2 separate regions of the Homo sapiens genome follow, and region 2 is reported to be linked to region 1. Evidence: microRNA targets listed by miRTarBase, many of them from high-throughput screens and not tested one by one. Region 1 holds a microRNA gene; the other region holds the end of a gene's coding sequence.

Evidence for each region. The annotated mature microRNA hsa-miR-607 reads GUUCAAAUCCAGAUCUAUAAC and lies in region 1 at 2,135-2,155, shown strand. An mRNA with a match to its seed (bases 2 to 7 or 8) in the 3' UTR can be bound and repressed. Matches are read on the target gene's strand: a 7mer-m8 pairs with bases 2 to 8, a 7mer-A1 pairs with bases 2 to 7 and ends in A, and an 8mer does both.
Region 2: miRTarBase lists HMGN1 as a target of hsa-miR-607. Seed matches in the 3' UTR shown: 7mer-m8 at 707-713.

The regions. Positions count from the first base shown.
Region 1 is chr10:96,827,839-96,830,838 of GRCh38, reverse strand. MIR607 (microRNA 607) reads left to right here and starts at 2,075; the gene lies at 2,075-2,170. It overlaps LOC102723665 (a long non-coding RNA gene), which reads left to right. Exons shown (of 1, transcript NR_135921.1): 1 at 1-207. RefSeq lists a cis regulatory region at 1-193.
Region 2 is chr21:39,340,283-39,343,282 of GRCh38, reverse strand. HMGN1 (high mobility group nucleosome binding domain 1) reads left to right here. Exons shown (of 6, transcript NM_004965.7): 6 at 124-968. The coding sequence ends at 171. Among named protein-coding and RNA genes, the nearest start is that of HMGN1, 7.3 kb to the left of the region's middle.

The DNA of each region.
Region 1 (3,000 bases):
TTGAAGGAAGAGGACTAATACGAGATTTTAAAAAATGGCTGTGGACAACCATCCTTCAGGTGTGATGGCAGGACATCTTGTATCACCTGAAACTTCCTTTTTTCGCCGCTAGGTGGTGGGTGTGAGTCTTTTGCGGCCTTTAAGTTTCTACGGTGTTTGGAGGAAATACGTTTCAGTTTCAAATAAATGAACAACGTGTAACTCTAAGATGAGTAAATAATCAATGTGTTTTCCAACCACCCCAAGTTAATTTGTTTAAAAAACAATCAAACCAAGGGTAATAATTCCTCGACATAATCTCTTAGTCCCAGACATATGGATTCAGAGAATCCTAGAGGCTTCAGAGATCAATTTTGTAACTTAAGATATGAAATTGGAAGCCCAGACAAGTAAGGTGATTTGACCAAGATTACATAGTTGCTGGGTAGAGAAAGGGCAACAAAAGCCAGGAGACAAGTTTCCCAATTTCCAATTTAATGCTAGTTTTACTACTCTACTCTGAGTTCCAATTTCTGCTTCACTTATTTTGAGTTGGGAACTAACTCATGGTTGACCTATCACAAAGACCTATTTGGAAGAAAGGATAGGGAGGCAATAGTAACAGCTAATATTCATTGAGCACCTATTATATGTTTATCATTGTTTCATTCCATCCAGATAATAATGCTATGAGTATATATTTACCACATTTTCCAAGTTAGGGACACAAGACTCAGATGAGTTAAATACATTTGTCAAGATCACATAGCTACCAAATTCTAACTAAGATCTCTGTGACTCTAAACCCCTCTAAATTGTCTTACAAGTAGAAAGTTGGCTTGGCGCGGTGGCTCACGCCTGTAATCTCTGCACTTTGGGAGGCTGAAGTGGGCAGATCACTTGAGGTCAGGAGTTCAAGACCAGCCTGGCCAACATGGTGAAACCCCGTCTCCACTAAAAATACAAAAATTAGCTAGGCATGGTGGTGGGCACCTGTAATCCCAGCTACTCAAGAGGCTGAGGCAGGAGAATCCGTTGAACCCAGGAAGTGGAGGTGGCAGTGAGCCGAGATCGTGCCACTGCACTCCAGCCTGGGCGACAGAGCTGAGACTCCATCTTGATAAATAAATAAATAATAAGTAAATAAATAAATAGTCTTACAAGTAGAAAATAGACTCTGCAACTGGAGGATTCACTTAACTCTACATGACATGTTCCGAGCACAGTTAAGCAGTTGGACATTCTGTGTTCCTATCACATGGCAGGCGGTGTCCCAGGCACCGAGGACATAGATAGATAAGACAGAATTTCTGACCTCTGTTGCTTTGGGCTACTGTTAAAGAGGGCCTTAGCTGTAAACTCTTACATTCTAGGGAGGGGCAGGTAATATAACATGGCAGTTAATAGGGTCTGAAGACAGCTGGGTTGGAATTCTGGCTCCATTTTTCAGTGGCTGTGTGACCTTGACATATTAACTTTTCTGGTCATTAATTTCCTCATGTGAAAAAGAGGATAATAATAGTCTGCAAGATGGGGTTTGTGTGAAAATGAAATGAAACTATTCACGTACAGTGCTAGCACATTCTTAGCATGAAATGAGCATCTGTTCTCTGATTAGGCCTTCCTAAGCTCCTATCTGTTTGCCCAGTCTGCAGGATGATGGGAAACCAAGATGCTTCTGCAGTTTGGAGTTAATCTGTGAGAGTATGAAGGAATGATAGCAATGACCTCAGCCTTTGAAAACAACCTCTGAGCCATGTTCTATAGTTCTCACAATGGCAGAAAAGGAATGTCAGGGAAGGGGAGTAGGACTTGGCTTGTCAGCATTAGATCAACTACTACCTGGTGTCTGATTAAAGATGGCTTGCAACATAGAAATGATCATTGACAAATGGGAGGATGAAATGATTGGGGCCTTCTAAAAAAAGCATGTCCTAATGGGAGGCTTTTTTAAAAAAACATAGTCAACTTCAAATAAATTCCAACAAGCAAGAGATGCTTTTTGAAGCACGTTTCAAAGATTATGTTATTTATTCTTCGCAACAACCCAATCGTGTATCCCATTTTATAACAGAGCACAGAGAGGTTAAGTAACTTGCCTAAAGTCACACAGGTTATAGATCTGGATTGGAACCCAGGGAGCCAGACTGCCTGGGTTCAAATCCAGATCTATAACTTGTGTGACTTTGGGCGAGTTACTTAAAGCCGGCTCTTTAACCATCACACTATTTTTTGCTTCCAGTGCTATTTCGGGGAAATGAGACCTAAGTCAGAGACAAGACCTAGCCAGACAGAAAGGAAGCCATGTCACTTGGTCACACGGCTTTTGGTCTTTTTGAGAAACTACTCATGTAGTGGCTTTTTTTGCTTAATAAAAGACTTTCAGGCCGGGCATGGTGGCTCACGCCTGTAATTTCAGCACTTTGGGAGACCAAGCCGGGAGGATCACTTGAGGTCAGGAGTTCGAGACCAGCCTGGACAGCATGGTGAAACACTGTCTCTACCAAAAATACAAAAAAAATTAGCTGGGTATGGGGTGCACCTGTAATCCCAGCTTCTTTGGAGGCTGAAGCAGGAAAATCACTTGAAGCCGGGAAGCAGAGGTTGCAGTGAGCTGATATCATGCCACTGCACTCCAGCCTGGGCAACAAAGCAAGACCCTGTTTCAATAAATAAATAACTTTCAGAGTTTCTCTCTTTTCAGCCTGTATACCTCTATGCCACTGGCCTAGAAAACATGTATGATTTTACTTTATGTTGTACGTGTGACATTTATTTTTCTTCTGTAGTTTTATTGAGATATATTTCACATACCATAAAATTCGCCCATTTGAAGTGTCCACTTCATCTGAAAGCAGGCAGTGGGAGGAGTGGCATCTCTTGGCTTTTTCCTGGGCTCTTGGCTCTGGGTCTTTGGCGCATGTTTTAGCATGGTAGAAATGTTTGACTGTCCCAGCCGGGTGCTGCCTTTCTGCATAAATGAGATCTTTTCTGCCTGGCAACATGGTTTTACCCTCACAT
Region 2 (3,000 bases), not on the chromosome of region 1:
AGAGTAGGTAGGTGACTTTACAAATAACAAAGGTTATTGACTTTTTTAAAGACCTGATAGTTGCATATAAATAAAACGACAACGTGTTAAATGCTAAAGATCTCAATTTCCTTTCTTTTGCAGAGTCCAGCCTCTGATGAAGCAGGAGAGAAAGAAGCCAAGTCTGATTAATAACCATATACCATGTCTTATCAGTGGTCCCTGTCTCCCTTCTTGTACAATCCAGAGGAATATTTTTATCAACTATTTTGTAAATGCAAGTTTTTTAGTAGCTCTAGAAACATTTTTAAGAAGGAGGGAATCCCACCTCATCCCATTTTTTAAGTGTAAATGCTTTTTTTTAAGAGGTGAAATCATTTGCTGGTTGTTTATTTTTTGGTACAACCAGAAAATAGTGTGGGATATTGAATTATGGGAGGCTCTGACTGTCTCGGGTGTCAGCTTAACATTCCACAGATGGGGGGTTAGTTTTTATATCCTATAATACAAAGCATATTAAATGGCAATATGGAGTCAGTCCTGCATTTAATGTCTTGAACATTTTAAATTACTTCTATTACCATGTTGTTTTTTAGTAGAATTGTTTCCTAAAGAAAACCACTCTTTGATCATGGCTCTCTCTGCCAGAATTGTGTGCACTCTGTAACATCTTTGTGGTAGTCCTGTTTTCCTAATAACTTTGTTACTGTGCTGTGAAAGATTACAGATTTGAACATGTAGTGTACGTGCTGTTGAGTTGTGAACTGGTGGGCCGTATGTAACAGCTGACCAACGTGAAGATACTGGTACTTGATAGCCTCTTAAGGAAAATTTGCTTCCAAATTTTAAGCTGGAAAGTCACTGGAATAACTTTAAAAAAGAATTACAATACATGGCTTTTTAGAATTTCGTTACGTATGTTAAGATTTGTGTACAAATTGAAATGTCTGTACTGATCCTCAACCAATAAAATCTCAGTTATGAAAATATTTTGAAGCACATGGATTAAATTCTGGTTTAAATTTTATTTACAGAATTTCCACATTTGAGCCTGGCCAACATGGTGAAACCCTGTCCCTACTAAAAATGCAAAAAAAAATTAGCCAGGTGTGGTGGCAGGTGCCTGTAATCCCAGCTACTCGGGAGGCTGAGCCAGGAGAATCGCTTGAACCTGGGAGGTGGAGGTTGCAGCGCACCCAGATCGCACTACTGCACTCCAGCCTGGGCAACAGAGTGAGACCCTGTCTCAAAAAAAAAAATTCCATATTTGATCTTCCAAAGTTGTTTTTTTTAAGTGAAATGTTTGAATTTTTGTTTAATACAGTCATGGGTCACCACTGACTGGATACAGTCTAAGAAACACATTGTTAGGCAGTTTTCTTGCGTGAACATCATAGAGAGTGCTTACACAAACCTCAGTGGCATAGCCTATTACCTATGTAAGCTGTATGGTTTAACCTATTGCTCCTAGGCAATAGACCTGTACAGCATGTTATTATGTAAATACTATAGGGAGTTGTAATAGAATGGTAAGTACTTGTGTATCTAAAGAGAAGGTACAGTATATAATATGGGACCATTATGTGGTTCATTGTTGGTTGATACCTGAGACATAACTGCTTGAGTATCTATGTCCTTTGAAGTTGCTTGACTATATTGGTTTAAGGGAAAAACAATCCAATATCCTTTGAATCAAAGCAAATACGTAATTCTTAACTCTTCGTATGAGGTTAAAAAAAGTACAGATAGGCCAGGTGTGGTGGCTCACACCTGTAATGCCAGCACTTAGGGAGGCCGAGGTGGGTAGGTCACCTGAGGTCAGGTGTTTGAGACCAAGATGGTGAAACCGCATCTCTACTAAAAATAAAACAGTTAGCTGGGTTTGGTGGTGGGCACCTGTAATCCCAGCTACTCAGGAGGCTGAGGCAGAAGAATTGCTTGAACCCAGGTGGTAGAGGTTGCTGTAAGCTGAGTTCACGCCATTGCATTCCAGCCTGGGTGACAAGTGAAACTTGTCCCAAAAAAAGAAGCTACAACTAAATCTAGTATGGTATGTATTTTCCAGATTTGCTTTCATATACATTCTGTTGTCATTCTGCCCTCTTAAGTATAGTCTTCAGAGGTGGTGTGGGGCAACTCTTGACTTGGCAACAGTGAAAACGGCCGGAGAACAGACCTTGTTGAGGTTATCACTAAATAGGGATCCTTGGAACAGAATTTAAACCTCTGTACACTTGGTGTGTTGTTTTGCCTGTGGGCTGATCAGTAGGCAAGAATCCTTTAAAAACAAGCCCTATGGGATCATAGATCTCTGCACGGACTGCCAGAGCAGAGTTTATAGGGAATAGTGAGGATACAGTAAAAGCAAATGCAGAGGATAGTGATGTGTCATGAACTGACGGCAAAGAAGCTTTGATAACCCTTGGGGGATGGGGAAGGACTAGGAGCCACCTGAGCGCTGTTGGTCATTACACGATGGAGGCCTGAAACGGTGATGAACAGATTTGCCTTTAACTCTGAAGTATAGGTAGAATAGATGAGTTTTTGATAAGCCTTTTAACCATAGAACCATCTGCCAGTGTTTAGTTAGTTGTCATCCCCAACCTTCCCACCCCGGACGGTGGTAATAGATGTTTTCAAATCACAGATTTTCTTAATCGTTGAATACTCGTTGTAATGATATATTTAAAGAAATCACTAGTTTTTCTTACAAATTAAAACAGGTAAAGGGTTTTGGCTTATAGAATACCAAAAACATTGTAGAAAAGCATAACAGAAGTACTTTAAGATCCTGCCTTGAACTACTCCGTTAGGCTTTTCTACAGTTTTTTTGGAGCGAGCCTTGCCTTGTTAAATCTGACCTATTACTTGGGTGTTTGCTAGCCCTAAGGCTGCCCATTTTCCTTTTTTTTTTTTCTTTTAAATCCTACCCACAGGAAGGAACACCTTTTGTTGTTGTTTCTGAGACGGAGTCTCACTCTGTCGCCCAGGCTGGAGTGCAGTGGTGCGATCTCAGCTAAC